3 separate regions of the Homo sapiens genome follow, and all the other regions are linked to region 1. The links come from fine-mapping of genetic effects on gene expression. A gene starts in region 1. Each other region holds a variant in brackets. All regions are shown on one strand. Distances are between the middles of the regions. Region 1 holds the start of EZR (ezrin). Region 2 holds the start of LINC02901 (long intergenic non-protein coding RNA 2901). Region 3 overlaps SYTL3 (synaptotagmin like 3).

Evidence for each region.
Region 2: its variant is fine-mapped to the expression of EZR in whole blood (TOPMed, PIP above 0.99).
Region 3: its variant is fine-mapped to the expression of EZR in whole blood (INTERVAL, PIP above 0.99).

Annotation. Positions count from the first base shown.
Region 1 is chr6:158,812,835-158,823,199 of GRCh38, reverse strand. It overlaps EZR (ezrin), which reads left to right and starts at 3,832. Exons shown (of 14, transcript NM_001111077.2): 1 at 3,832-3,883; 2 at 5,034-5,118. The coding sequence starts at 5,107. It overlaps EZR-AS1 (EZR antisense RNA 1), which reads right to left and starts at 5,221. Exons shown (of 3, transcript NR_102425.1): 1 at 5,095-5,221; 2 at 2,607-2,728; 3 at 961-1,060. RefSeq lists enhancers at 1,578-1,677, 5,199-5,248, 5,731-5,900, 6,764-6,813, 9,933-9,982 and silencers at 3,549-3,598, 3,659-4,648, 4,789-4,988, 7,096-7,155.
Region 2 is chr6:158,864,823-158,875,535 of GRCh38, reverse strand. It overlaps LINC02901 (long intergenic non-protein coding RNA 2901), which reads right to left and starts at 5,722. Exons shown (of 3, transcript NR_160980.1): 1 at 5,559-5,722. RefSeq lists enhancers at 4,729-5,402, 5,333-5,502, 5,403-6,075, 6,076-6,748 and a silencer at 5,583-5,902. The variant T/A (reference allele first, on the strand shown) is at 5,753.
Region 3 is chr6:158,743,068-158,753,780 of GRCh38, reverse strand. It overlaps SYTL3 (synaptotagmin like 3), which reads right to left. Exons shown (of 18, transcript NM_001242394.2): 12 at 8,123-8,301; 13 at 1,751-1,853. Among named protein-coding and RNA genes, the nearest start is that of MIR3918, 16 kb to the left of the region's middle. The variant T/C (reference allele first, on the strand shown) is at 5,905.

The DNA of each region.
Region 1 (10,365 bases):
CTGAGCTTCCGGGAGGGCTGCCCTTCCTCACTTTAGTTTTAACCTTGTCTGAAGAACTCCCAGGAAATTACCAACAGCCCTTCACCAGGCTCAAGAGGCAGACTTAGGATTACCCTTCTCTAGCTGAAAAACTGGAAAATGGAAACCCGGCAATGAAGGGTCATTCAAGGTCTTATACCTAAACTAACAGCAGGGAAGTTTCCAGTAGTCCTGGCTCCAGTGTTTCCTCACTTCCTTCCAAGGCACTGAGTATCATATATTAACAAAAGGATGACTTTCAAACACAAGGAACAGCTTCACAAATGAGGGCTAAAAGGAGAGGCAAGTGAAATATGCGTCAAGGTCCTGCCACATCCTAAGTCAGTTGTTCTCAAATTGTGGTGTACATCATCAAAACCACGTGGGGACTTGTTAAAGAAACAGATTCCCAGGGGCTGCCTGAGACTTAGTCTTAGTGAGCCATAAGTCCTGGAGAAGGGCACTATGAGTGATTCTAATGCATATTCAAGTTTCAACACAGCTGGAGTTGAGTCTTCTGTGTGTGTGCTGGGGGCAGGGGTTTAGGTTCCAAACCCTGATGAAAATAAATTACCCTTAGAAAATCTTAAAACATTCATAAGATACACTGTAAGTGTTTCCTTGGTGGGCAGAACAGTACAGTAACATGTAAATGCTATGTTGTCATACTTACAGTAATGTAAGATACATGATAAGGAATGCATGTACAAATATGACTTTATACTATTTTAACTTATGTAAGAAAGATTATATAGCATCCCTCTGTATCCACAGGGGATTGGTTCCAAGACCTCTGAGGATACCAAAATTCTCCAATGATCAAGTTCCTGACATAAAAGGGTACAGTATTTGCATATAATGTACAAAATCCTCCTGTATATCTTAAATCATCTCCAGATTACTTATAATATGTAATATAATGTAAATACTTGTTATACTATATTCTGTATTGGATTTTTATTGGTATTTTAATTGTAGTATTATTTTTATTATTTTCCAAATCTTTTCCATCCAAGGTTGGCTGATTCCATGAATGTAGAACCTACAAATACAGAGGGCTAATTGTACATAAAAGTTGAGTGAGTCAAATGCTCATATGATATGATTCAGTGACACAAGAATACCATGAAATACATATTATCCTTTCCATTTTACAGATGAAGAGATGGATGCTCAGTCAGGTTGACAGACTTGCCCGAACGGACCAGGTTGGTCAGTTTGCAGGAAGCAGAATTCAGACTTAGCTCTGTTTGCCTCAAAAACCTGCCATCGTTTCATTTTTATTTTATTTTATTTATTTTTTGAGACAGAGTTTCGCTGTTGTTGCCCAGGCTAGAATGCAATGGTGCGATCTCAGCTCACTGCAACCTCTGCCTCACGGTTGGTTTCAAGTGATTCTCCTGCTTCAGGCTCCCGAGTAGCTGGGGTTACAGGCGTGCACCACCATGCCCATCTAATTTTTTGTATTTTTAGTAGAGATGGGGTTTCCCCACGTTGGCCAGGCTGGTCTCGAACTCCTGACCTCAGGTGATCTGCTCGCCTCAGCCTCCCAAAGTGCTGGGATTACAGGCTTGAATCATCGCACCTGGCCGTTTCATTTTTACCACACTGCCACAGGCCACTTCATTTTTTGGCATTCCCCTAAAGGGTAAAGTTCAGAAATGCTCTTCAAGGTCTTGGGGCACCGCTATTTCAAACATTCAATTTAGAAGACAGTATACTTCAAATGGAGCGAGATAAAAATTAGATTAGAGGCATATCCTATTATGAGAGTTGGGAACCCAAACTGGCTAACCAGGCTCCAGGCAGTGATAAGGCAGTGGAGGTATTGATGTCCAGTTGGAAACATTATCAGTGCAGGTAATTTAAATATCTTTCATAGTTTTCTTTCTACTGCAGTTACCATTATATCTTCATTTTATTTATTTATTTATTTATTTTTGAGACGGAGTTTCACTCTTGTTGCCCAGGCTGGAGTGCAATGGTGCGATCTTAGCTCACTGCAAGCTCTGCCTCCCGGGTTCACACCATTCTCCTGCCTCAGCTTCCCGAGTAGCTGGGACTACAGGCGTGCGCCACCACACCCAGCTAATTCTGTATTTTTAGTAGAGACGGGGTTTCTCCATGTTGGTCAGGCTGGTCTTGAACTCCTGACCTCAGGTGTTCCACCTGCCTCGGCCTCCCAAAGTGCTGGGATTACAGGCATGAGCCACAGCGCCCGGCCTATAACTTCATTTTAATAAAAAAGAAATTCAGGCCAGGAGTGATGGCTCACGCCTGTAATCCTAGCACTTTGGGAGGCCGAGGTGAGCAGATCACCTGAGGTCAGGAGTTCAAAACCAGCCTGGCCAACATGGTGAAACCCCGTCTCTACTAAAAATACAAAAATTTAGCTGGGCTTGGTGGCGGGTGTCTGTAATCCCAGCTACTCAAGAGGCTGAGGCAGGAGAATTGCTTGAACCTGGGAGATGGAGGTTGCAATGAGCTGAGATTGCGCCAATGCACTCCAGCCTGGGCAAGAAGAGCAAAACTCCGTCTAAAAAAAAAAGGGAAAGAAAAGTTCAGTCTTTCAGAGGGAATACACTTACCTGAATAGAGGTCAAAATCTCAGAAGAGGCCTCCCTCCTCTCTCTGACCTCTGAAATGCCCTGGATCTGCAAGTGGGAGATAACAGGCCCTGACAAAGGGTTGCCCAAACAGCAGTGTGTCCCTAGGAAGACAGGTTAAGCATCAATTACTATGAGGCTAGCACGAGTTAAGCATTCCACATGCACGATCTCATTTAATCCTTACAAGTCTATGTAGGTGGGGCTACTAGTATGTTCACTCAACAAATTGGGAAACAGAGTTTGGAACTTCGCCCAAAGTCATTGGTTTCTCTTTCTACCAGGATAGATTTAAGTGCTTACTAAGTGTCAGGTACTGTTCCAGGCATCGTACATGTACTAACTCATTATCCTCATTAGAACCCTCTGATACAGGTGCCATAATTATGCCGCTTTACAAACAAGAAAACTAAAAGCAGAAAGGGAGGAGTAAACCCAGGAGAGGAATTCAGGAGAAGCTCTGGTCTCAACCTTTAGCCAACATCACAATCACCCGAAGGGCTTGTAACACACTGATTGCTGGGCTCAGCCCTAGAGTTTCTGAATCCTAAGGCTGAGCAACACCTAATTTCCACTTATGCAAGTTCCCAGTGAATGCTGTTGCTGCTCGTCTGGAAGCCAGACGTTGAGAACCCCTTCTAGAGTGAGCTCTCCCGCAGCAAATTCTACTGGCCCCCAAAGTATGTGTTTTGTGTGTCTTAAAAATTTGTTGAGAACCATTAGCAAAAAAACAAACAAAAAAACTTAATTCCTAGAATTTCAGAGAAATCCCATGGAGCTTTTTGCCAGTCACGTCAAAAGAGGCCACAAACGTGCCACTTAACCAGAGCTTCGGAAAGGCGGCGGCTGGGCCGGCCACGTGCACCGAGACTCGGGGCCAGGTGCAGCCGCCCCAGGGCCGAGGCCTCGGAACTGGCCCCCGGTCCCGGCCCCAAGCGGTCCAGCGATTCCCCCAAGCCGTCCGCCCCTCCAGATTTATTTACGTTTTCCTGACTTCCCCCTGCCCGCTGTGGGACAAACAGCCTCCCCACTTGCATCTGCGAGGGGAGTAGCGCGCACTTCCGCCAAGTTCCGCCCCCACCCAGCCCGAGGCCCGGCTGCCGCCATCTTGCGGGGGGCGCACCTCACAGGTCGGGAGCTGGGCGGGAAGGGGCGTGGTCCCGGGACCCGCCCCGCCGGGGCTTTTGGGAGCGCGGGCAGCGAGCGCACTCGGCGGACGCAAGGGCGGCGGGGAGCACACGGAGCACTGCAGGCGCCGGGTGAGGCGTGCGGCGGCCGGGGTCGGGACGGGGGTTCTGGGCGGGGGGTTCCTGGTGGAGGGCCCGGGCGGGCGGCGGGGTTCGGCGGCAGGTGCGGCGGGCAGCCTAGGGGGCGCGGCGCGGGGTTCTCGCCCGGCACCCCCGGGGCAGGTGGAGCTGAGCCGGCCCGCGGCCCCGCGACCTTCCCCTCGGCGCCGGGTCCCCTCAGGTCTCTCCCGAAGGAAACGCGGAGCCTGGGTGCCTGGGCGCCGTCCCTCGGCGGCTCCCGAGCGGTTGCAGTTTTTGAAAGAGTTTCTCAAAGGCTTGACGGTTGTGACTGCAGCCGCGGGGCAACGGTTGCTACACAAAGTGAAACTTGCCGAGTGCTCGGCTTCTCACGGGCTTCCTGGCAGCCCCGGGAAGTTCCTCGGCGGACCCCGAGCCCGCGCCCCCTCTCCACGGATCCCTCCCCAGCGAGTGCCCCCCCGCCCGCCCTGTGCCCCCTCTCCCCTGACCCCTCCCTGTCGGGTGCCCCGCGGGCTCGCGCTGGCTGTCCCGGGACTCCTTCCTCCTAGGTGTTCCTCCTGCCCCTCGCCCTCTCTCTCCCAGGCGCGCGCTCCCTCTCCCCGGGCCTTTCCCCGCCGGGTATCCCTGGGCCCGCGCCCCCTCTTCTCCGCCTCTCTCCGCTGGGTGCACCTCGAGTGTCCCCCAGACCCCTCCCCGCCCGGCCGGCGCTCTCTCCCCTGACCCTCCTGGCCGAGTGTTCCCCGGGGCCCGCGCCCCCTCCCCCCGATCCTCCCCACTGAGTGTTCCCCCTGCCCTCTCTCTCCCGGGCCTGCGCCCCCCACCAGCCCCTTCATGCTGGGGGTCCCCTGGGTGCGCACCCCCTCTCCTCGGACCCACCCCCAACTGGGGGGCACCTCCAGTGCCCGCCGGCTGCCCCTTGGGCGCGCGCCCCCGCTCTCGGGCGCCTCCTCGCCGGGGGCCCGGCCCGGCCCCGCCCCGCCCGTGCCCCCTCCCCATGCCCGCAGTGCTGGGCGGGGCGCTGACTCACCCGGGCCCGGGCTGGCCGGTTCTTAAGCGGCAGCGCGCTGCGGGCGCCGAGTGTCGGGCGCGGCAGGAGGACGAGGCAGGGCGGGCGGGCGCTCTAAGGGTTCTGCTCTGACTCCAGGTTGGGACAGCGTCTTCGCTGCTGCTGGATAGTCGTGTTTTCGGGGATCGAGGATACTCACCAGAAACCGAAAATGCCGAAACCAGTAAGTTGCCCAGTTTCTGGGCCGGGCGGACGGGAGAGGCTTCATTGGAGAGGGGAGGCACCTGCTCGAGGTGTTGGGGCAGTTCCTGGGGAACAGGGTTCTTCTCACACGCAGAAGACGATAGGAATAGGAGGAGGTTTTCGCCGCTCTTTGTTACTTGTTGACCCTTTTGTGGAGCGTTAGGAAAACACCATTTTGATGCTTTTCTCTGCAGTCTTTTTCTTTGTGAGCCCCCTCCCCAGTAGTTACGGTCTTTTCTAAAAACTAGAGGCCTTTTTACACTGCTTCCGTCTGTTTTTAAAGGGTATAGTAATACAACTTAGAAGTTTCTTAAAAAGTCCAAATCACAGGGAGACTCAGATGGCTTCCGACCACACACACCAGTTCTCAGAGCTCCTAAGGGTCCGAAACCACAGGCGCCCCAGATCCAACTGGGGAGATATTAAAGGGCGTTTGGGAGAGGAGACTGGCTTTCGGAAGTTGCCTTTCAGCTTCGCTTCCTACTAGGCCCATGAAGCGGTGCCCTGTACACCAGCAAACTTGCTGGCTGCAGCAGAATTTCTGTCTCTAACAGAAGGTTAGCCATGGACTTGAATTGTAGATGCAGGCAGCCGGTGGAGTTTGATAAGAGGTTCCTGGCAGGCCGGGCCGAGCACTCCTGGTCAGCTGATGAAAGGGCTGTGCCTGCGCCTCTGTCTCCTTGAATCTGATTGTGTTGAGATTGCTGGCGAGACCTGGGGGTTGTAGGCACAAGGCAGGTTCTCTGGGACTGACGCTTCTTAGAAAGTTGTATGTATTCTACCTGCTTTTAACACTGGGGAACTGGTGACTAGACATTAGGGGGAAGGTTTAACATTTTTTGAGTTTTGAATCACAATGGACAAAATATCAGGATTCATTACAAATTGGGATTACAGATACATCTGGAATTTTTTTTTGGTTTTTCAAACAAGTTGGTTCTGTAATCAATGCTTGTGTGCCTTTTGTGGGGGATGGGGGAGCGGAGTCTCTCTCTGTGGCCCAGGCTGGAGTGCAGTGGCATGATCTCGGCTCACTGCAACCTCTGCCTCTCAGGTTCAAGCGAATCTCCTGCCTCAGCCTCCCGAGTAGTTGGGATTACAGGCATGTGCCACCATGCCCAGCTGGTTTTTGTATTTTTATAGAGAGGGGGTTTCACCATGTTGGCCAGGCTGGTCTAAAACTCCTGACCTCAGGTGATCTGCCTACCTCGACCTCCCAAAATGCTAGGATTACAGGCGTGAGCCACCACACCCGGCCTTGTGTGCTTCTTCTGTTACATTTTATGTTCTCTAAGATCTTTGTTAGAGGTATTAATTTTGCTGTTAGGATAAAGAATTAATATGCCAGTAGATTCAGAAGCCAATATAATTTTTGCCTAAGTTACATCAAGATGATTCATTTGTGATGCAGAGTATTTTCTATACAAAATTTTTCTTTTTAATTCAAACTTAAAAGTGACACGTGACATCGAGGCTTGACAGTGCATGTGGTATGAAACTGACCTAAGTACAACCCCTTACTCAGGCAGAGCTGAGTGCAACGGTATGCGGAGGAGTGGTCAAGAAGATTACCCTTCTGGGTGTGGTTTTCTTTATTTCACTAAAAGAAGAGGTGCAGAGCTCAGCTAAGATAGCACTCAGGAAAAAGTTAACCTGTTCTCCGTCACTACTTTTCTTTCTCATTTCTCATAATGAATGGTAATTTATTTTTATGGTTTCTTTTTTGTATTTTGGTAAAATATACAGTTTATCCTCTTACTTTTAGGTTTACATTTCAAGGTATTAAGTACATTTACATTGTTACATAGCCATCACCAAGGTCCATCTCCAGAACTTTATCTTCCCAGATTGAAACTCTGTACCTATTAAACTCTCCCTCCCCATCCCCACCACCAGCCCTTGGCAACCACCATTCTACTTTCTGTCTCTATGAATTCGACAACTTTAGATACCTCATGCAGGTGGAATCGTGATAGCATTTGTCCTTTTGTGACAGTCTCATTTCCTGTAGCATAATGTCTTCAAGGTTCATCCATGTTGCAATGTCAGAACTCCCTTCTCTCTCTTATTTCTTATGGCAGGTATGTTTTCATTTCATTTTGTTTTAGAGGTCTTTTATGATAGATCAGAACTTAAAAGATGTTTCTGACATTTGATAAAGTGAAGATAGTTGTGAAACTGTTAAGGAAAGACAGTAGCCATCACCTTGTGTATTAGAGCCAGAGTTACTCTTTGAAAGACTGTATTCTGTATAATATCTACAATTAAAATTTTTAAACTTTTTTTGAGGCCAGGCGAGGTGGCCTGATTACAGGCACGAGCCTGTAATCCCAGCACTTTGGGAGGCTGAGGCAGGCAGATCACATGAGCCCAGGAGTTCGAGACTTGCCTGGCCAACATAGACTCTGTTTCTACAAAAAATAGAAAAATTATCTGGGTGTGGTGGCTGGCGCTCTGACTGAGGCTGAAGTGGGAGGATTGCTTGATGAGCCCTGGAGGTCAAGGCTGCAGTGAACTAAGATCAAGCCACTGCATTCCAGCCTGGGCAGCAGAGTGAGATGTTGTCTGAAAACAAACAAAACCCCTTTTTTGAGAGGCTTCCTTTTAGGTCAGCCATACCTGTCTGCCATGGGAAATTTCTCCCTGCCCCCTCTTTGGCAGAGGAGGGTCTTAGAGATAAGTTAAACACACTAAGCCTTTCTGTGTGTAAATTATATTAGAGCCATCCCACAAATCACTGAGAAGAGCATCGTAGGTTGCACATATTTGAATATGACATTTCTTAAGGCTGTTAGAGAGGATCCAGTTAGTTTTGGTTTGGTTTGGGGTTTTTTTGCTGCCTTAGTAAATGTTAAAATGAAACATCCACCAACAGCTCTGTGGATGTGTCCTTTAAACAAAGGTTTATTGATTCTAATTATTCAAGCCTAAGTTAAGAATGTTAGCGAAGAATGTTAGGTGGTTTTCTTGGGCTTAATGTTTAACAACTGGATTAAGGGGCAAACACACTTAAAGGATGGATACCTCTGAGTAGTTGGCCTTCCACCTGATTCATTGCAACTGTTAACCCTTGAATTCAACGGGCAAAGTATTTTTGATTGATTTGCCTGAACTGAGTGAGTGGATGACTTTATTCATAAAACAGTATAACTGAAAATACTCATTTCCTGTGTTTTCTCCTAATACTGTTTCCCAAAAGCAACAGTTACTTAAAAGACTGAGGCGGTACACAGTGGCTCATGGCAGTAATCCCAGCACTTTGGGAGGCCGAGGTGGGCGGATCACAAGGTCAAGAGATCAAGACTATCCTGGTCAACATGGTGAAACCCCATCTCTACTAAAAATACAAAAATTAGCCGGGCGTGGTATGGATGCCTGTAGTCCCAGCTACTTGGGAGGCTGAGGCAGGAGAATCGCTTGAACCTGGGAGGTGAAGGTTGCAGTGAGCTGAGATTGCACCACTGCACTCCAGCCTGGCGACAGAGTGAGACTCTGTCTCAAAAAAAAAAAAAAAAAGACTTTATTCATCAGCAAGCGGAGTGACCTGCACAGAGGGCGAGGCAGACCTTGTTCTCTGGAAGCTTAGTGTCTGGTACCTGGGCCAAGATGCGGGGTAAATGCTGAAATTGAAAACCCGCTAAGTGCTGTCAGACTGGGAAAGAGCCTAGGTAACGTCGAGAGGAAAATCTGATGGGGAAAGGAAAATCATCTGATGGGGAAATTGGCAGACTGTATTGAGAAGTAACACTTCAGCTGAATCTTGCTTGAGGGCTGGGGGGCGCACGCGGCAGCACTCCACAGGGAGGAACAGCTGTGGTTTGTTGTCTGGTTTTGCTTTTCCCACAGCTGCTTAGGGACTCTATTCATGTGTGACTGGCTGACGTCCAAGGAGGGTGATTTGGGGTTCCAGAGGGAGCCTTGGCCTCTGTTCAGGCCAGTCCCCAGGACATGGTGTGCTGTGTGGCCTTGTGGGTCTGCCCCATCTAGGGAGAGTTGTAGGAGTTGGTGCTCAGATCATTGGTCCCGGAAGCATCCTCTCTGCCCGCCCCTTCATGTTAGGGTGACTGCGGAGCGCCTTTCTCCCACACTTGCTTTCTTCTGCCCAGTGGAAAGAAGGCATGGGGAGTGAGCAAGGAACACTGCTGTAGTTAAGCTCTGGAAGGAAAAGGGGATTGTGTTCAGGGCTGAGATCTCTTTAAGCTGTCATGAGAACCATAGAGCTGAACTGCCTTTAAGTGGCTCCAACACATCTTACCTGTTCATTTCTGAAGTGTTATAGACATTTCTAATACAAAAGCAGGTTTACCTTTCATTAGGAAAACTCTGAAAGTGTGTTCACATTTCTACTGTGCCAAAATTTTAAGGTAATTTCTGAGATTACCTTGCCTCTTTGGGAATACATAACCTTTTCTATTAAATATTTTAACAGGGACAGTTTACTGAATGTACTCCCCCCTCACAATCCCCTCGCAATTGAGGAGGATGCGTAGCATCTGTTTCCACCCCTCCTCCTCCACGAGGGGCAGTGGTGAATTAGGTAGCTAACATTTTGCCATGTGGCAGTGAGAGGTGCTGGTAGGATGAGTGATTTGCCATGATCACGCTGTAAGGCACAATGAATGTATTTGGATGTTCACAGACACAGTCCCTGTCAGTGGATTTACAGTCTGGTTTCGGGGACAGACAGCAATCCCAGAGTAAATGTAAAACTGCAGCTTCAGAGAGTATGCCTGAAGAGGGGTACATGAGGCCTGAGAGTAGATGAAGTGTGTATGTGCTGGTGGGGGTGCAAATAGGGGAGGTCAGGAAGGCATCCTTGAGGACGTGACCTCCCTGGGCAGAGGTAACAACGTGTGCAAAGGCCCTGTGGTGGGAGGAAGTAGTGTGAGTTTGGGGTTTCACATGAAGCCCAATGTGGCTAGAGAGGAAGACAGGTCAGGCCATGCCTTGTAAGCCATTCTTGGGTGTTTTTTAGTTTAACTTGGGGTTTTGACTGGGAGGTGACATGATCAGATTTGCCTTTTGAAAAGTTGACTGTGATCTGTAATAGGAAAATCACAGGAGGCAGGAGACAGCAAGGGTAGTTATGGTAGACCATTGAGGGAGCTCATAGCTTGGACCAAGGTGGTGGTGGTGGGAACAGAAGTGGATGCATTTGAGAGTTCTTTGGGAGGTAGAATTGATAGTGCCTGGTGATGGGTTGGATATGCAGGGCCAAGGGTGGTGT
Region 2 (10,713 bases), 52 kb before region 1:
GAGCTAAAAATGCTGAAAATATTTAGAGAATAAACAGCGTATTTCTAAATAACACCTGTGTAAAATAAAAAGTCTCAAGAGAAATTTTTAATTGTTTTGAACCAAATAAAAATGAAAATACAACTTACCAAATCTTGTGGGATATAGTAAAAGCAATGCTTCGATGGACATTTTTAGCACTTAATGCATATATTAGAAAAGAAGAGGCCAGGCGCGGTGGCTCATGCCTATAATCCCAGCACTTTGGGAGGCCAAGGCGGGTGGATCATGAGGTCAGGAGTTAGAGACCAGCCTGGCCAACATGGCAAAACCCCGTCTCTACTAAAAATAAAAAATTAGCCAGGAGTGGTGGCAGGCACCTGTAATCCCAGCTGCTTAGGAGGCTGAGGCAGGAGAATCACTTGAACCTGGGAGGTGGAGGTTGCAGTGAGCCAAGATTGTGCCATTGCACTCCAGTCTGAGCGACAAGAGCAAGGCTCTGTCTCAAAAAAAAGAAGAAAGATTTAGTATCAATAATCCAAGCTTCCACCTTAGAAAACTATAAAAAGAAAAGAATATAAGCCTAAAGCAAGCAGAATAAGAGGAAAATAATAATAAAAATTAGAACAGAAATCATTGGAATTGAAAATAGGAAATTAATTTTAAAAAATCAAAACCAATAATTAGGAATGAAGGATAGGCTATCACTGAGCACCCCACAGACTCTAAAAGGGTAATAAATTACACAAACAACTGTGCACACATAAATTTGACAACTTACATAAAGTGGATCAATTCTTTGATGGCCACGAGCTACCAAAACTCATCCAAGAATAAATTAAAAACCTAAATAAATCCTTTATCTATTAAAAAAATTGAATTTCTAGTTGAAAATCTTCCTTAACAGAAATCTGCAGCCCCAAATGGTTTCATCAGCAAATAGTACCAAAGATTTTAGAAAGATATAACATGAGCTCTACATAGTTTCTTCCAGAAAACAGAAGTGGAAGGAATGCTTCCTAACTCATTTTATGAGATGAGCATCATCATGATACTAAAACCAGATAAAGAAAATACAAAAAAAAAAAAAAAGATCCTCATGAATCAATATCCCTCATCAACACAGATGCAAAATACTAACAAATTGAAACAGTAATACATAAAAAAAAATTACACACCATGATCCGGGGTTTATTCCCGAGATGCAATATTTGAAAATCAATGAAAATGTAATCTGCAACAAGACCACATCAACCGACAATATTCAACATCAATTCACGGTACAAGCAGTCGGCAAATGAGGAATCGAACAGAGCTCTCTAAACCGATAAAGCACACCTACAAAAAAGCCTATAACTAAACACACTGTGAAAGACGTAATGCTTCTTTCCCTCTAAGATCAGGAACAAGGCAAGGAACTCCACCTCACCCCTCCTACTCAACATTGCACGGGAAGACCTATCTTGTCAAACAGGGAAATAAAATTTAATGAAAGTCATACAGATTGGAAAGGAGAAAACGCAACTGTCCCTAGTACCTATTCACAAACATGATTGCCTGTGTAAAAAATCTCATGGATTCCATAAAAACCTTCTAAAACCAATGTCAGTTTAGTGAGATTGCAGGATACAAGGTTAACACATGAAAACCAACTATATTTCTTTATAATAGTAATGAATATCCGGAAACCAAATTTTTTAAATCACAGTGGCTTTGAAAAATAGTCTGCATAAATCTAACAAACCACGTAAAGGATCTATATATGAACACCACAAAATGCTGATGAAAGAAATAAAACAATCTAAATAAATGTAAAGACATACTATATTCACAGACTGGAAGACTCAATACAGTTGTCAATTCTCCTCCAATTGATCTATAGATTTAACACAAATACAACCAAAATCCCCCACGTGGTGGGGCACAGTGGCTCACCTGTAATCCCAGCATTTCAGGGACTGAGACAGGAGGATCACTCGAGGCCAGGAATTTTGAGACCAGTATGGGCAACATAGCGAGACCTCCGTCTCTACCAAAAAAAAAAAAAATTTTTTTTTAATTAGCCAGGTGTGGTGATGCACACCTGTGATCCTAGCTACTCAGGAGGCTGAGGCAGAAAGATCCCCTGAGCCCAGGAGTTTGAGGTTACAGTGAGCTATGATGGCACCACTGCACTCCATCGGGGCTACAGACTGAGACTCTGTCTGAAAAACAAAACAAAACAAACAAAAAAAGAACAAAATTCCCAGCAGGATTGTTAAAACATATAGACAAGCCTAAAATACATATGGAAAGTCAAATGAAGTAAAATACCCAAGTAATCAGGAAAAAGAACAAAGTTGGAGGGCGCTAAGACTTACTTTAAAGCTACAGCAATCAAGACAGTGTCGTGTTGGTGAAGGGATAGACACAGATCAATGAAACAGAACAAATGGTCCAGAAATAAATTCACACAAATATGGCCAACTGACGTTTCACAAAGTGGCAGGTGCAAAGTCAATGGAAGGGAGTCTTTTTAATAAAGAACTTGTATCCAGAATATTTAAAGAACTCTCAAAATTCAATGGTAAGAAAACAACCTGATTTTGGCCGTGTGCGGTGGCTCACGTCTGTAATCCCAGCACTTTGGGAGGCCGAGGTGAGCAGATCACCTGAGGTTAGGAGTTCAAAACCAGCTTTGCCAACACGGTGAAACCCCGTCTCTACTAAAAATACAAAAATTAGCCGGGTATGGTGGCGCATGCCGGTAATCCCAGCTTCTCAGGAGGCTGAGACAGGAGAATTGCTTGAACCCGGGAGGCAGAGGTTGCAGTGAGCCAATATCGTGCCATTGCACTCCAGCCTGGGTGACAGAATTCTGTCTCAAAAAAAAAAAAAAAAAAAACCACTAGGAAATACTGCTGCATAACCATCAAAAATTTAAGACTGTTAACACCAATTGTTGGCAAGGATGTGAAGTAACTATAATTTTCTTTTCTTCTTTTCTTTTTTTTTTTTTTTGAGATGGAGTTTCACTCTTGTTGCCCAGGCTGGATGGAGTGCAATGGCATGATCTCGGCTTACCGCAACCTCCACTTCCCAGGTTCAAGCGATTCTCCTGCCCCAGCCTCCCGAGTAGCTAGCTGGGATTACAGGCATGCGCCACCATGGCCAGCTAATTTTGTATTTTTAGTAGAGACGCGGTTTCTCCATGTTGGTCAGACTGGTCTCGAACTTCCAACCTCAGGTGATCTGTCTGCCTTGGACTCCCAAAGTGCTGGGATCACAGGCGTGAGCCACCTCGACCAGTCCTTTTTTTTTTTTTTTTTTTTTTTTTTGAGATGTAGTCTCGCTCTGTCACCCAGGCTGGAGTGCATTGGCATGATCCCAGCTCACTGCAACCTCTGCCTCCTGAGCTCAGGAGAGTCTTCTGCCTACGCCTCCCAAGTAGCTGGGACTACAGGCGTACGCCACCATGCCCAGCTAATTTTTTTTTTTTTTTTTTTTTTTTAGTAGAGATGGAGAATCACCATATTGGCCAGGCTGGTCTCGAACTCCTGACCTCGTGATCCACCTGCCTCGGCCTCCCAAAGTGCTGGGATTACAGGCGTGAGCTGCTGCGGCCAGCCAATTTTCAAAAATTGATTCAATCCTTTTGGGAAACTGCCAGCAGTGTCTACTAAAACTAAATATACACCTATCATCCTATGACACAAAAATTCCTTTTATAGGTATATATCCTACTAAAATCAATTATTCATCATACTACATGAATGTTCAGAGCAGCTTTATGCATAATAGCCAAAAACTGAAAACAACCCACATACACATCAATGGTAAAAAGGATAAGTTAACTTAAGTATATTCATGCAATAGAATACTATTCAGTAATAAACAAACTTCAAACTACTGATACGTGTGATAACATGGAGGAATCTTACAGACACTACGGTGGGTGAAAAAAAACAGAAATGCAAAGGTGTCCAATCTTTTGGCTTCCCTGGGCCACACTGGAAGAATTGCCTTGGGCCACACATAAAATACACTAAAATTAACAATAGCTGATGGGCTAAAAAAAAAAAAAAAAAATCACATGGCGGGGCGCGGTGGCTGATGCCTGTAATCCCAGCACTTTGGGAGGCCGAGGTGGTCAGATCACCTGAGGTCGGGAGTTTGAGACCGGCCTGCCCAATATGGTGAAACCCCATCTCTACTAAAAATACAAAAATTAGCCAGGTGTGGTGGCACCAGCCTGTAATCTCAGCTACTCGGGAGGTTGAGGCATGAGAATCGCTTGAACCTGGGAAGCGGTGGTTACAGTAAGCCGAGATCACACCACTGCACTCCAGCCTGGGCAACAGAGACTCTGTCTCAAAAAAATAAATAAATAAATAAAGTCACAAAAAATCTCGCAATGTTTTAAGAAAGTTTACAAATTTGTGTTGGGCCACATTCAAAACCGTGGCCTGTGCGGGTTGGACAAGTTTGGAATAAAGCATAATGCTTGATTGCAATTACATGAAGTTTAAGAGTAGACACAACTCATACTTGGTAATTTAAGTCCAAATGAATAGTGGTTACCTCTGGGGAAGTACTACTGACCGGAAGGAGCAGTTGGAAACCTGGGGTGATGGAAATGTTCTAGATCTTGACCTAGGGGCTAATGACATGTGTATACATATGTAAAACTTCACCCAGCTGTCCTCTTAATTTCTGTGCGATTTATTGTGTGTAAATTATATCAGTTAGGAAAAAATAAGAAAAATGAAGGAATGATGGAGAAAAAAAGAAATGAAGAGAAACGTAACGAAGGAAGAAAGAAGGGAGGAAGGGAGGGAGGGAGAGAGGAAGGGGGGATTAAACCCAAGCACGGAGGGGGAGAGATGCTCCTCAAAAATATGCTATCAGTCATGTAGTGTTATTTATTTATTTATTGAGATGGAGTCTCGCTCTGTTGCCCAGGCTGGAGTGAGTGGCACGATCTCGGCTTACTGCAACCTCCACCTCCCAGGTTCAAGAGATCCTCCTGCCTCAGCCTCCCGAGTAGCTGCCATTACAAGCACACGCCATGGTGACCGGCTATTATCTGCATCTTAAAGATGGGGAAAGTTTGAGGTTTCCTGATGTGTTCAGCGTCACAGACTGGGTGAGTGACTCAAGCTGAGGCTAAAACCCAGGTGTGTAGGGCACCAAAGCCTTTGTGATTCCACCTCCTACAGCTCAGGTCACTTCCTCGGAGAAAGGTGACTCCTAGAAATGCCTCCCACCTGGAACTGATCTCCTCCTGGGAAGAACGTCTGTCTTATCGCCGTCGACCTTAGGCATGGACACCCTTCTGTCCCCCACCCACAACTGTGAGCCTGCTCAGGAGGCACAGCCGCGTTCATTCATTTTAGGCCTCCTCAAGGGCTCAGCGCCTGCTAAGCAGATGCGCGTTCCTGTAGGACAAGGGGTGGCCACTGGAGACGCGGGTGCGACGCAGGCGATCACGCCCTCGGACGACGCTGCGGACTGCGCTTCCTTCCGAAGAGGGAACCGTTGAGAAGAGTGAAGCGATGAGTTATGCCTCACTGGAAACCAACCGCGTCCGTGTGACTCACTTAGAAACTCACTGTTACATATTTGGAGCCTGAGCTGACGACCTTCCGGGTACACGTCAGGCAGAAGCAGGTGCGCGGTGGGAGTGTCCGCCCCGCCCCGCCGGTCGCGCCGGCCCCGCCCCCCTCACCTGCGCGCGCAACCCCACCCCAGCGCGAGGCTCTGCACCGGCCGCGCCCGCCATCCAGCTTTTATA[T/A]GGCGCTATTTTGGTCGCGCGCCCTGATTGGCCGGGAGCGGGCGACGACACGCTCGCGCGCCTCAGGGAGGGGCCAAGATCTGGGGGAGGGGAGCTTCTGGCAGCCGCGCGGATCCGGGGGCGGCGGGGCGGGACTGCTGCGGTCTCTGGGGGTGCTTTGGGGCTTCTGTGCCTAGTCTGCAATCTGTTAGTGGGGTTATATTTTAATAAAAGAGCTTGTGTGTCCGAAGGGGATTTGCCAAGAACCAAACTCACCCTTCTGGGAGGGAGTTGCCAGATGGCGGGAACAGGCGGCGTAAACCTTACCAGACGTGAGCCCAGGCTGCTCAAGTGTCATTCGCGTCTTGAAGCTCTTGCCCGCCTCCCTTTGCAAGCGCGTCTAATGCCAACTCTACCTTGCCCTTTGCTAAACCAGCCCTCTAATGTGTTATCGTGCCTCACGTCAGACAATGGCTGGGCCTGTCTCTCTTTCCCCTTGGTTCTGTCCTCTGCCCTTCTCTTAAGCCAGAAGAACAAAACACTCCTTAGAATCGCTGGAGGATCTCATTTCCACCACATTCCCGTGTCCGGAGCCGAAGAGCCACGTCTGACCCTCACTGGTCTGGCTGTCCACCAATCAGGCAGCATTGCTTCTCTGAGTCTCAAGGTTATTAAATTTCTTCTGGTGGCAGACTGGTTTTGTACTTTGGTGAAAGTGACCAAATAGGTACGAAGTGTGATTCATCAAAAATTCTTACACTTAAAAAGATAAGCCAAAAGGATCATTCGAAGCCACCACTCCATATTAGATGGGAACTTAGCTTGAAAGGGGTTCTCTTAAGGATTTCTATTTACTTCTTTGAATTACAAATATCATCTCTGGTTGGAAAGCCTATAAACGCCTCTGAGATTTCCTGAGTTCACAACTTTGAAGATCATTTGCAGCTGGATGCAGAAAAAACAAACCTAGTAATTGTTGAATGTGGACATCAATAAGAATTAAGTACTTTTGGCCCAAAGGCAGTGGTTCACACCTGTAATCCTAGCACTTTGGGAGGTCGAGGCAGGAGGATAACCTGAGGTCAGGAGTTCCAGACCACCCTGGCCAACATGGTGAAACCCCATCTCTACTAAAAATACAAAAATTGGGTGGGCGTGTTGGCGCATGCCTGTAATCCCAGCTACTCAGGGCTGAGGCACCGAATTGCTTGAACCCAGGAGGCAGAGGCTGCAGTGAGCAGAGATCATGTCACTGCACTCCAGCCTGGGCGGCAGAGCAAGACTTGTCTCCAAAAAGAACTTTCAATGTGCCAGGCATTTTAAATGCTTAACAGGCATTTCATTTAATCCTCACAAAATCCCCATGACTTAGATACTATTATTATACCCATTTTACAGAAAGGGTCTAGAAAGCTTGCATAACATTGTGTCTGGACTTGGTTCCTGCCAGTGGGTTCGTGGTCTCAGTGACTTCAAGAATGAAGCCACAGACCTTCGCGGTGAGTGTTACAGCTCTTAAAGATGGCCGGGACCCAAAGAGTGAGCAGTAGCAAGGTTTATTGTGAAGAGCGAAAAAGCTTCCACAGCATGGAGGAGGACCCAAGTGGGATGCCGCTGCTGGCTGGGGTGGCCAGCTTTTATTCCCTTATTGTCCCCACCCATGTTCCATTTCTATCCTATCAGAGTGCCCTCTTTTTCAATCCTTCCCGTGACTGGCTACTTTTAGAATCCTGCTGATTGGTGCGTTTTACAATCCTCTTGTAAGACAGGAAAGTTCCCCAAGTCCCCACTGGACCCAGGAAGTCCAGCTGGCCTCACCTCTCAACATGACTCATGCAACACATTAGTACCATGGCAGTGCCGGGATTCACACCCAAGGTTGTCTGACTCCTGTGTGCCCTTAACTACTAAGCTCTGCAGTTTCTTCTTTCCTAACCAGAAACTTAGTCTTAAGCGGGCCCAGAAGGAGTTGGGATCACTACCAGGTGTTACAAATCTTCAGGAAGACATTTGTCCTGCTGCTGGTTTAAGAAAAGGATTGCTACTGTGGGGCGTGGTTGCTCACACCTGTAATCCCCACTATTTGGGAGGCTGAGGTGGAAAGATCACTTTAGCCCAGGAGGTTCAGGCTGCAGTGAGCTGTGATCACACCGCAGCACTCCATCCTGGGTGACAGAGCGAGACCTTGTCTTAAGAAAAAAAAAAAGATTGCTATGTGAGAGGGAAAATAAGGGTGCCTACAGTCTCAACAATCTCCGCTTCCCCTGAGCAACAGACCATATTAAATCTGCAGTACAAAGTTTCTGAAAATGTCTCAGATTCTGCTGTGTTCATCAATTTGGAGAACGACCTGTTTACAAAGTGGCCTCACTTAGATCCACTTGGTTGGTTAGGAACCAGGAAGCAAACCGATCATAAGAATGACTTTCAAACTTTCTTCTACACTTTCTTCCAAAAAGCTACCAGAACTACCTGATAGAAATTCCAAATACAGTAGACCCTGCAGTGGAAACTGCCTTGGAGCCAGGCAGGCTTGGGTTTAATCCCCAGTCCCACCATCCCCCAACCCGTCTCTCTGAAGTTGTATGAATTTCCAAACTTTTATGAACCTCAGATTCTTTATTTGTAACCTGTTTGGCTGAAAGGATTAACTGAGATCTCTGAAGTTCCTGAATTATTGAGTGGCACAAATAGGTATTCAAAAAAATGTTCATTATCTTTTTTGCTCCTTCCCGTGAATGATTAAGAAGAAAAGCACCTAGTCATGACTATTCTATCTTTATTATTTCTCTTACAGAGCTACATTGACTGTACTAAGTTTCATAGTCAGGTAGTAATTTACAGTAAGACTTAATTATCATCCATAACTTTAAATGTCCTTATCAAAACTTCAACGACATCACTTCCAAATACTAGCATTAGCTTTGTGTCTGACATTCATTTAACAAAGTTACTAAAAATCTATTAAGTGTAAGACTTTGGTTATTTTTTAATAGAACTTTCTGAAAACTTTTCAGCAATATAGCCTATTGAGAAAAATGGGTATGTTGAAAAACAAAAACAAAAAGCATGGTTTACAAACAAGTATTAGGGAAATAGTATTTTTATTATTATAACCTGTTCCTTCTTACTGCTCCCAAGCTCCAACTCTGACCATAACTCTTAATGAAAATAATTTGGTCTGGTAAGACTAAATAAATAAAAAAGAAAACAAAGTTTATTGAAAAGCAAAACATTGGGCTGGGCACAGTAGCTCATGCCTGTAATGCCAGTACTTTGGGAGGCCAAGGTGGGAGGATTACTTGAAGCCAGGAGTTTCAGACCAGCCTGAGCAATGCAGTGAGACCCCATCTCTAAATAAAAAAGAAAAAGAAAAAAAGACAAAAAACTAAGAACAGAAAGTAGAATTTAAGAAAAATTAAAGATGTTCCTTTACAAACATAATTCAGAGATGCTTTTCCCTTTTAAAGCCATTCAGTATTTTTTGTCAATTGATTTTGCATCATAGACATGACCCATCATTTTCAACACCGCTAATCAGTCAAAGGGAGACTTTTAAGTCTTCAAGTATAAAGTTGTAAAATGTGCAGTGTGTGTTGCACATCAGGGTAGTGGTGGATACTACTGCTAAAATACAAAATTTGCAAACCATTAGACATCCAAGTAAGTTTTAAATGAGCAGATTTCCAGAAATTTGGAAAGTATTAACAAAATGGTTTGAAATTAAGTGGAACAACTTTTCTAGCTCAAAAGAATATGACTTAGGCAACACGTACTTGACACCCAAACACCTGTGTGGATTAGTTGATTTAGTCAAATGAGCAGCCAGCTCAATAGAAAAGAAATTCATCAAACTCACTTTTTTAGACCACATTCACTTCTGCTTTTAGACTTAGCAATCTTTCATAGCACTTGTATCTAAGTAATGTGAAATTAACATATATATTAAATATGTAAGATCAATTATTGAAAAAACTGATGTTATTAGCTACAAAAATAGTAACATGAACTGAGGATGCACTGTAATAGATGCCGGATGCCAGAGTGGTTCAACATAATCATTTTGATTCTCCTTTTAACTCCTGTCATTGCCAGCAACAGTGATTTAGGTTGTGGTTGGCTCAGATTATCTTTTGCTGCAATAAATTTTTGCTGCAATAAAGGGCTGCTGTTGAAAACCTGCCTGTTCTCTAACTCATTACTGTTGCCCCAATACTACATCTTCTATTAAACAAAACTGAGGAGCCAAACGCTAGCAGGTAGTGAAAATGTCCTCTACTATTGCTAAACAAGTGAACACAGCCATCACCCTGAAACCTGAGCATTCAATGAGAATCTACATTTTAAATGGCTCTTTTGAAGCATTCATTCATCCATCCAGTCGTTCAACAAATAATTCTTGCTTTCTATGTCCCAAGCATGTACATAGGAATAAATAGGAGTAGTTCATGTTTCCTGCTATGGAAGGGCTTGCAGTCTAGTGGAGTGAGAGATGAATAAGCAAATAAGGCAGCTGAGAGCTAATTGCAACCATGGAGGAATTTAAGTAGGTGTGCAAAGGTGGAAGGATGGGGAAGGCTATGGAGATTGTAGGCAACACCAAGCACAAGGCTCACGATCTGGGAGTGTCGGGGGATAAGGTCAGTCAAAACACAGATGGCTTGACAGCCACGCTAAGGCATTAGACCACCATCCTGAGGGCAGTGTGGAGCTTACAGGCAGTTGAGAGAATATCAGAGTGGGGAGCCCCAGTGGCTCACGCCTGTAATCCCAGCACTTTGGGAGGCCGAAGCTGGTAGCTCGCTTGAGGTCAGGAGTTCGAGACCAGCCTGGCCAACACAGCGAAACCCCGTCTCAACTAAAAATACAGCAATTAGCCAGGCATGATGGTGCGTGCCTGTAGTCCCAGCTACTCAGGAGGCTGAGGCAGGAGAATTGCTTGAACCCGGGAGGCAGAGGTTGCAGTGAGCCGAGATTGTGCC
Region 3 (10,713 bases), 70 kb after region 1:
TAGGTAACCTTTTAACTCCAATTATATAACTACATTTTTTTTTTTTTTTTTGAGACGGAGTCTCGCTCTGTCACCCAGGCTGGAGTGTAGTGGCGCTATCTCGGCTCACTGCAAGCTCTGCCTCCCGGGTTCACGCCATTCTCCTGCCTCAGTCTCCCAAGTAGCTGGGACTACAGGCGCCCGCCACCACGCCCGGCTAATTTTTTGTATTTTTAGTAGAGACGGGGTTTCACCATGTTAGCCAGGATGGTCTCGATCTCCTGACCTCATGATCCACCCGCCTCAGCCTCCCAAGGTGCTGGGATTACAGGCGTGAGCCACCGCGCCCGGCCCAGAATCTGCATTTTAAAAAAATCCCCAGTTCTAAGTACAGGGGCATCTTAGAAAATAAGAAATTTAGGCCTGGCGTGGTGGCTCAAGCCTGTAATCTCAGCATTTGGGAGGCCGGGGTGGGCAGATTACCTGGGGTCAGGAGTTCAAGACCAGCCTGGTCAACATGGTGAAACCCCATCTGTACTAAAAACACAAAAAATTTGCTGGCCATCGTGGTGGGTACCTTTAATCCCAGCTACTCAGGAGGCTGAGGCAGGAGAATCGCTTGAACCTGGGAGGTGGAGGTTGCAGTGAGCCAAGATCATGTCACTGCACTCCAGCCTGGGCGACCAAGAGTGAAACTCCATCTCAAAAAAAAAAAAAAAAAAAAGAAAAGAAGAAATGTTTTAAAAATGTAAATCCCCATGGGATTTTACGCACACAAATTTTGAGAACTGCCAGTCCTTTGTGGCTTTGAGCTGTATTTCTAAGGACTCTCTAGGTCTCAGTTTCCCCGTGGGTAAATGAGGATTCTAATAATTACCCCAGGCTGTATATAAAGCACTTGGCCACAGTAGGGACCCAGGAAACAAGGGCTATTATTATTTAATGAACTCAGGGCTCTGTGCCAGCTGCCCAGATGGCCCCTGGCTGGCAGCTCACAGACACCCCCTACTTGCCAAGAAAGGCAAACAAAGCCCTCTCCTGTCATAGGCATGAGACGAGGGGACCTCTGGCTGCCCAGCCCCGGCAGGGTAGCCTCTGCAGCTCTGGGCTACCCCCCTCACCCTGCACCAAGATTGGGGCCACCACAGCCAGCTCTCTGCAGATACCAGACCTCAGCTGCAGCCTTCCACCCGACATCAGAGCGCATGGCCCCATCTCTGCCCTCAACCATCAATCACATTTCCTAGTATCATAGAAAGTGAAAACCCAAACAATTCCTTTGTAAGATTTTTCATAAAAGGATTCATTTAAAAAAAATAAAATTAGAAGAAACCTGAGTTTGTCAGAAATACAATAAAGGGGCACTTTTACAAAGACAGTAACTCAGGAGTTTAATTTTCAGGGCACTCTGTCTGAGAGCACCTCTTTGACAGAAACATTCACTAAGACAAACTAATGTTTAAAATTATCCTGTGCCCCGGTGTTAGCCCGAGACAAAGAGGCAGCCAGGTTCTTTTTCACCATCTTCTCAGAAATCATTAATCAAAAGCCATTCCTGAGTCTGGCAGACTCTGCACTTTTCCTGTACAAAGGCTGACATTTATTTTCTACCAACTTAACACTGATTGACAGAGCTGCGAAGAAACATATAGGTGTCTGTATTATATCTAACTGAGTCAAGAGTTTGAAAGCACCATCCACTGGACTCTGCCCCAGGCGCTCCACCCGGGCTCGGGAGGACTCTGCACAGGAATATCTGTCCAGCAAGTACCTTCAAGGTCTCCTGAAAGGTCGGGTCCACGGTGTTCCTTTGGACTCCAGTCTTGCGCTTTCCCTGGGAGGATCTGTCGGGCAACAGGTAGGTCTTCACATACCTAGGGGCCAAACACAGCGGGGACAGAGTGAGAACTCAGGGAAAGGGGTGGATAAAGAGTTTGGGGGCAGCAGAGAACCCACATGCCAGCGTTTTCTTTACCAGGCTTCCTGCTGGAATTTTTGGGTTGATAGAAAGGACTTAATAGCCTAATAGTGAGCAACGTTAGTGCTGGGTGGGCAGCTTCTGATCCATGCAGTCTATGGTCAAATGCTAGCCACATAACCCTCTGGAATATTCCTGGGGGTGTGAAGCTCGTCCTGCCTTCCTCAGGCCCTACTCCATTTGGCGAAGACCATGGAACTAGAGATTCTCTCGCCTGCCTGGATGTCAAGGCCATGAGCCGGATTCCCGTCCCTTCTGCCACCCACCACCTGCAAAAGAAAAAAAAGTGGAAGTAGAAAGCATATGCCTCGCACTGTGCTGTTTCCTTGCAGGGGCCTCAAAGACTCTGCTCCTCCCAACCGCTGAGAAGTGGGATTCTGCTGAGTCTAGAGGTCGCACGCAGCATGACAGATGTCTCCATCTGCACTCACCCAGCCCCTGAAATCCAGGCGGAGAGGAAGACATGTCCTGTCCTGTTCTAGGCTGACCCCTCCATACAGGCCCCTACGCTGCCCTTCATGGCTCCTCTGGCAGCCCCAGTGATGGCAATGACCCCCCAACCAGCAGCAGCCCAAGCCCCCTCTCCACAGGCTAGAAACAGGCTCTACTTTCCAAAGTAAAAAATCACAGTGAGCCTCCTCTATCTGTGCCCTTCTTTAGCCCCAGTCTTGGGTCTCTTCTTCCCCCTAGGTTAAGCTTTTTGTGAAAATACTCGAAATCGGCCAGGAGGCCAGGCGCAGAAGCTCACAACTATAATCCCAGCACTTTGGGAGGATGAAGTGGACGGATCACCTGAGGTCAGGAGTTCCAGACCAGCCTGGCCAGCATGGTGAAACCCTGTCTCTACTAAAAATACAAAAATTAGCCAGGCATGATGGCATGTACCTGTAATCCCAGCTACTCAGGAGGCTGAGGCAGGAGAATCGCTTGTACCTGGGAGATGGAGGTTGCAGTGAGCCGAGATCGCGCCACTGCACTCCAGCCTGGGCAATAAAGCGAAATTCCATCTCAAAAAAGAAAAACAAAACAACCCAAAAACTGGCCAGGCACCTGGCTCAGGGAGGATTCCATAAGCCAGGAATTTGAGACCAGCGTGGGCAATACACAGGGAGAACTCATCTCCACGAAAAATTTAAAAGTCAACTGGGTGTGGTGGTGTGCACCTGTAGTCCCAGCTACTCGACGCCCGAAGTTGGAGGATCACCTGAGCCCAGGAGGTCAAGGCTGAAGTGAGCCATGATAACATCACTGCATTCCAGCCTAGACGGCAAAGCAAGACTCTGTCTCAAAAAATCAAACCAAAACAAAAAATCCCTCAAAACTCCATCTCTAATTCTTCACAGTTCATTTACTCTTAAGTTACTGAGCATTACACATTCATGCAATCTCAAATATGTAAAACAGAATATATAAAATATACCTATACGGTTGGAAGCATTATAATAAAGTGCACACCCATGTACCCCTGCCCCCCAGCTTAGGAAACAGAACATAACCAGTGACTTCCCTATCACAGTCCTGCCCGTAACCAGGTAATAACCACGTTGGATTTTATATTTATCACCCCCTTGGTTTTCTTTATGGTTTCACCATTTTGATGTGTCTCCTTAAACAATGTACTGCTTAGTTTTCCCTGTTTTTGAACTTTTATATAAATGGGATCATTCTGTATACATTCTTCCATAATTTGCTTTTTTTCACTCAATATTATGTTTGGGATTCATCTATGTTGCTGTAACTGCCGCTCATTCATCTCTAATCCTACGTATCATTCCACTGAATGAATACACAAGTCATTTATCCTGTTGATGAACATTTGTCTTATGTCCTAGTTTTTCCCTCTGCTCATGGTGCACATGTGCAAGCACTTCTCTTGGCATATAACCAGGAGTGATAGGGTATATGCCCCTTCAACTCTTCTAGATGATGCCAAATTACCAATTCAATCTCTTTAACAGATATAGAGTTATTCAGGTTTTCTATTTCATTTCATGTCAGTTTTGGCAATTTGTGTCTCTTGAGAATGTGTCGATTTCAGCCAGGTGTGGTGGCTCATGCCTGTAATCCCAGCATTTTGGGAGGCCAAGGCGGAAGGATTGCATGAGCCCAGGAGTTTGAGACCAGCTTGGGCAACATAGTGGGACCTCATCACTACTGAAAATTTTTTTTAATTGGCTGGGCACGGTGGTGTGCACCTGTGATCCCAGCTACTTGGGAGGCTAAGGCAGTAGGACCAGTTGAGCTCAGGAGTTTGAGACCAGCCTGGGCAACATAGTGAGACCTCATTTCTTAAAAAAAAAAAAAAAAAAAAAAAAAGAGAGAAAGAAAAGAAGGTGTTCATTTCATCTAAGCTGTTAAATTTATTAGCACAAAGTTTTACATAATATCCCCTTATTATATATTTTTTTCTTTCTTTTTTTTTTTTTTTTTTTTCAGACAGAGTCTCACTTGGTTGCCCAGGCTGGAGTACAGTGGCACAATCTTAGCTCACAATCACAGCCCTCCTGGGCTGAGGTGATTCTCCCACCTCAGCCTCCCAAGTAGCTGGGACTACAGGTGTGTGCCACCACACCTGGCTAATTTTTATTTATTATTTAATGAGAGGGAGTCTCACTCTGTCACCCAGGCTGGAGTGCAGTGGCATGATCTTGGCTCACTGCAACCTCTGCCTCCTGGGTTCAAACAATTCTCCTGCCTCAGCCTCCTGTGTAGCTGGGATTACAGGCACATGCCACCATGCCTGGCTAATTTTCTCTGTATTTTTAGTAGAGACGGGGTTTCACCATGTTGGCAAGGCTGGTCTTGAACTCCTGACCCTCAGGTGATCCACCCTTCTCGGCTTCCCAAAGTGCTGGGCTTGCAGCCATGAGCCCCCAGCCTGACCCCCTTATTATACTTGAATGTCTGCAAGTGCTGTCATGTTGTCTCTTCTTTCATTCCTATACTGGTATTTGAGTATTCTCTATTTTTTTTTTTTTCAGGCGGAGTTTTGCTCTTGTTGCCCAGGCTGGAGTGCAATGGTGTGACCTCAGCTCACTGCAACGTCTACCTCCCTGGTTCAAGGGATTCTCCTGCCTCAGCCTCCCTAGTAGCTGGGATTACAGGTGCCTGCCACCATGCCCGGCTAATTTTTGTATTTTTAGTAAAGATGGGGTTTCACCATGTTGGCCAGGCTGGTCTCAAACTCCTGACCTCAGGTGATTCACCTGCCTTGGCCTCCCAGAGTGCTGGGATTATAGTTGTGAGCCACAGCACCCAGCCTTTTTCTAGCATTTTAAGGTGGAGGTTTAAATAATTCATTTTAAGTCTTTTTCTTTTAAATATAAGCACTGCTTTAACTGCATTCCTCAAATTTTGAAATTTAAAAGTCAGGAAATACTTTTGGGGCAAAGACTATTCCAGTTTTCCTGAGGTAGACGGTACAGGAAGAGTAATAATAAAAGCTAAGACTAGAACAATAGGAGAGATTCTGTTACGAAGGAACCACAAGTGCTATAGAAATGTGTACTTAATTTGTCTGGTACTAAAGAGCTACTAAAAATTTCAGAGCAGAAGAGAGTTTGATTAAATCAACAATTGATTTCTTTTCCCATCATCACTCTTTAGCTGGTAATTAAAACAGTATGCCAGAAGTTCCCCATGTAAGAAAAAAGAAAGGCAAAACTGAGGCCCCTGCCTTAAACTATATATAGAAAATCAATTCCGCTTGTAATGTGAACAGATCTAAGTGTGGGGAAAAAAAAAAAAAAACGATAAGAAGAAACCAGAGAACGTATTTAAACCCTTGGGTGCCACAGGAATTCTTCTACAGACACAAAAAGCAGAGAGTTTAAAGGAAAAGCTTGATACATTTGATATTAAACTTTCTACAAGAAAAGTCATAATAAACAAGTTAGAAAACAAGTTACAGCTAGGATGGATAAAATACGTACAATACATATAACTAA[T/C]AAATAATTTTTAAACCTATTTAAATTAGGTTTAACAAAAAGCCTCTGGTAAATAAATAAAACAATAAACAATCCAATAGAAAAATGGGAGGCCAGGTGCAGTGGCTCATGGCTGTAATCCCAGAGCTTTGGGAGGCTGAGGTGTGAGGATGGCTTGAGCCCAGGAGTTTGAGACCAGCCTTGGCAACAGAACAAAACCCTGTCTCTACAAAAATAAGTTAAAAAATCTAGCTGGAAAAAAAAAGTTACAAATTTAGCCTCCTACATAGCTGAGACTACAAGCATGTGCCTCCCAACTACTCAGGAGGCTGAGGCAGGGAGATGGCTTGAGCCTGCAGTGAACTGTGATCGTGCCATTGCACTCCACTCCTGTAGTCCCAGCTACTCAGGAGGCTGAAGTGAGAGGATTCCTTGAGCCTACTAGGACTTTGAGGCTGCAGTGAGCTATAGTGGCACCACTGCACTCCAAGCTGGGTGACAAAGCAAGAAAGACCCTGTCTCTTAAAAAAAAATTAATTTTAATTAATTAAATTTTTAAAAAGAAAAATGGGCAAAAGATATGAATAGAAAACTCACAAAAGAATAAGCCTGGCCAGGCACAGTGGTTCATGCCTGTAATCCCAGCACTCTGGGAGGCCAAGGCGGGTGGATCACTTTAGGTCAGGAGTTCAAGACCAGCCTGGCCAACACGGGGAAACCCCGTCTCTACTAAAGATACAAAAATTAGCCAGGTGTGGTGGCGGGCACCTGTAATCCCAGCTACTCAGGAGGCTGAGGCAGGAGAATTGCTTGAACCCAGGAGGCAGAGGTTGCAGTGAGCTGACATCGTGCCAATACACTCCAGCCTGGGCAACAGAGCAAGACTCCGTCTCAAAAAAACAAAATAAAATAAACCTAAGTGGCAAATGCATATATAAAAAGTGGCTCAAAAGGCTGGGCTCACACCTGTAATCTCAGCATTTTGGGAGGCTGAGGTGGGAGAACTGCTTGAGTCTGAGAGTTCAAGATCAGGTTGAGCAACATAGTGAGACCCTGTCTCTATTTTTTTTTTTTTAAAACAAGTTGCTCATCTTTGTTAGTAATAAGGGAAATGCACATTAAAATAATAGTGCTGGCCGGGTGTGGTGGCTCATGCCTGTAATCCCAGCACTTTGGGAGGCCAAGGTGGGTGGATCACGAGGTCAGGAATTCGAGACCAGCCTGGCCAATATGGTGAAACCCCGTCTCTACTAAAAATACAAAAATTAGCTGGGCGTGGTGGTGCACGCCTGTAGTCCCAGATGCTCAGGAGACTGAGGCAGGAGAATCACTTGAACCCGGGAGGCGGAGGTTGCAGTGAGCCGAGATTGCGCCACCGCACTCCAGTCTGGGTGACAGAGCAAGACTCCACCTCAAAATAATAATAATAATAATAATATTATTATTATTATTATTATAATGGTGCTACACCTTTTCATGTCTGTCAGTGAGAATAACATTTTAAATCTCTTTATGGATTGTGTGAATCAAGATTTTAATTTTGTATTTCCTGCGTGGAAAGCCAAATTTTTCAACATCATTTATTGAAGTCCACTTTTCCCCACTGATCTGTAATAGCTCCACAACTGAATGTTTATGTCCACCTCGCTCACCAATTCATAGTTGAAGCCTGACCTACAATGTGATGGTATTAGGAGGTAGGGTCTCTGGGAAGTGATTAGGTCATGAGGGTGCAGCCCTCATGAACAAGATTAGTGCCCTCATAAAAGAGGCCCGAAGAGAGCTGCCTTGTCCCTTCTACCATGGGAGGACACAAGAAAACAGTCATCTAAGAACCAGAAAGGGGGCCCTCACTAGATACCAAATCTACCAGCACCTTGAGCTTCGACTTCCCAGCCTCCAGAACTGTGAGATATGTATTTGTCTTGTTTATAAGCCACCTGGTCTATGGTATTCTGTCACAGCAGCCGAAATGGACTAAGACACTCCTTGATCATGTAAGTTTTCATATACGCTAAGGTCTGTATCTGGACTTTTGATTCTACTTTCCTGACTTGTTCTGTCCTTGTATCAATAACACATTGTTTGCATTGCTACAGCTTTATAATAATACTTGAAGTAAGCCTTTTCATTTTGTTTTTTTTTTTAATAATTGTCTTGGTTATTCTTAGACTTTTACTTTTTCATATACATTTTGGAATCAATATGTCTCATGTTAAACTTAAAAAAAACAACTTACGGATTGCACTTTTTCTTCTTTTCTTCTCCATAGGCAAGGTTCTTACAGGCCTTGATGCATATTTCTAAAGAATGGGTTTTGAAGCAATAATGAATGGCAAATTCTATTTCTCCAGTGACATTAGCATTGTCAAAATTGCCCATCTCTGTACAGGTGCTGTCAATGCTAATTAAACTTCCCTGAAATCAAGAATAACAGATATAATAAGTTACTTCAGTTAATTCACTTTTTTGATGTTCTGGTTTCAAGACAGCACATAAATAAAAACTCATACAGCATGTATCCTGACTCACATCAAGTTAATAATGCACCAGCTTGTACTTTGCCAAAATAAGTTGCCACATGTTCTATCTCAAGGAGACAGAGAATCCTCAGAAGGCCCTCTCTTGCCTAGATACAGTTTTTGCCTAGCAATAAATGTTACACGATCTCATTCTTTAACACAAATTGCTTGGGGCGAAATGGACTAGCTCCTATGCAATTCTGCAAGATCACTCCCAGGAGGCCAAGATAATATCCATGGCAGGACAGCTATGCGGAAAGCGGCACAGTCTGGGGCTAAGTGGCTGCGACTGGGAATCAGATAGACCTGGACTCAAATGCTAGTGCTGCCACTCATTAGCTGTGGCAAAGTCTAACTGGAAAAAACCATACTGATCTCACAGGGCTATGGTGAGGAATAAATAGAATAAAGCAAGTAAAGTGTGCACCCAATGGTAACAGTAAATTGTATCTGAATTTTTCTGGTTACCTAAAATGAAAAATAAAACTATCATCACAGTCTAGGGTACTCCAAGCTTATACGATGTAGATAAGGAGAGGCTAATGAATGTTATTAATTAGCACAAAATTCCTGGGCCTAAAAGATACAATCAGCTACCTTATCACTATTAAACGTGCTTAAATACTTTGCATGCAACCAATCTCTGTGCTGCCTTTTTATAGGAAGACAAGCCTAACTGATTTCTACTTCGAATTCCCAACTAGCTCCTCCACACTATAAAACATCTTGAAAAGAAACTAAGAAACAAGCATGGGAGTGCCGGGTGCAGTGGCTCACGCCTGTAATCCCAGCACTTCGGGAGGCCGAGGCAGGCAGATCACAAGGTCAGGAGATCGAGACCATCCTGGCTAACAAGGTGAAACCCCATCTCTACTAAAAATACAAAAAAAGAAAAAAAAAATTAGCCAGGCATGGTGGCGTCCCAGCTATAGTCCCAGCTACTCCGGAGGCTGAGGCAGGAGAATGGCGTGAACCCAGGAGGCGGAGCTTGCAGTGAGTGGAAAGTGCCCCACTGCACTCCAGTCTGGGCGACTGAGCAAGACTCCGTCTCAAAAAAAAAAAAAAAAAAAAGAAAGAAAAAGAAAAAAAAAACAAGCCTGGGGGCAGAAAGTCAGAACCACAAGGGAAAGATAAAATAGAAAAAAAAAACAGCAACTGAGACCAGGCGTGGTGGCTCACCCTTGTAATCCCAGCACTTTGGGAGGCCAAGGAGGGTGGATCACTGGAGGTCAGGAGTTCGAGACCAGCCTGGCCAACATGGTGAAACCCCGTCTCTACTAAAATACAAAAATTAGCCAGGCAAGTGGCGCGTACCTGTAATCCCAGCTACTTGGGAGGCTGAGGCATAAGAATTGCTTTAACCTGGGAGGCAGAGGTTGCAGTGAACTGAGATTGTACCACTGCACTCCAGCCTGGGCGACAGAGTGAGGCCCCATCTCAAAACAAACAAACAAACAATAAACAATACCAACAAGTCATCAGACAGGCTGGAACCTGAACTGATGAATGCTAAGAACAAAACAAGCTTCACCACATCCAGTCACTGGCTCTGAAAAATCTCACCTGTCAACACCATTCCACTGTTAAAATGGAAAACAATGTAAAATTTTTACACACTCAAAAAGGCACAGGCCGGGCACAGTGGCTCATGCCTGTAATCCCAGCACTTTGGGAGGCAGAGGCAGGCGGATCACTTGAAGTCAGGAGTTTGAGACCAGCCTGGCCAACATGGTAAAACCCCATCTCTACCAAAAAAAAAAAAAAAAAAAAAAAAAAAGCTTGGACTGGTGCACCAGCATGAGTGAGTGAGGTATGAGAAGTGAAGATAGAAGAGAATGGACAGAGGAGCTTGGCAAAAGGTGTGAGCAGCCTGAGAGAAGAACCAGGTAGATGAACGGAGAAGCTAATGAATCATACAGCATTTGTCATGGGACTCAGCTTCAGGCTATGTCAGACTAAATGGTGTTACACACACTTTTCTGCTGAGAACAATTAGAAAGCTGAATTAAACAACTAAACTATTTCAAGAGATTGTAGAGCTGCCAAGACCACCAGGATGCAAGGGGCCAAGATGCTGAAGAGAAGCACATGGAAGTAAGCCTGACATCCGGAGCTGCCTTTCACTTCAAGGCATAAGTCCCTGTGTAAGCAACACAGGACTTGATTCTATCCTACTGACCTGCTTGACTCTCCTTGCATCAGGAGCACATTGAATCACTACCGCTGCACGTCCAAGGGCTGGACGGCCAAGATGTCAATCAAAATGAAATGGCAAAGAGACTCAGAAGCTCAGCAGAGTTTTCAGCAG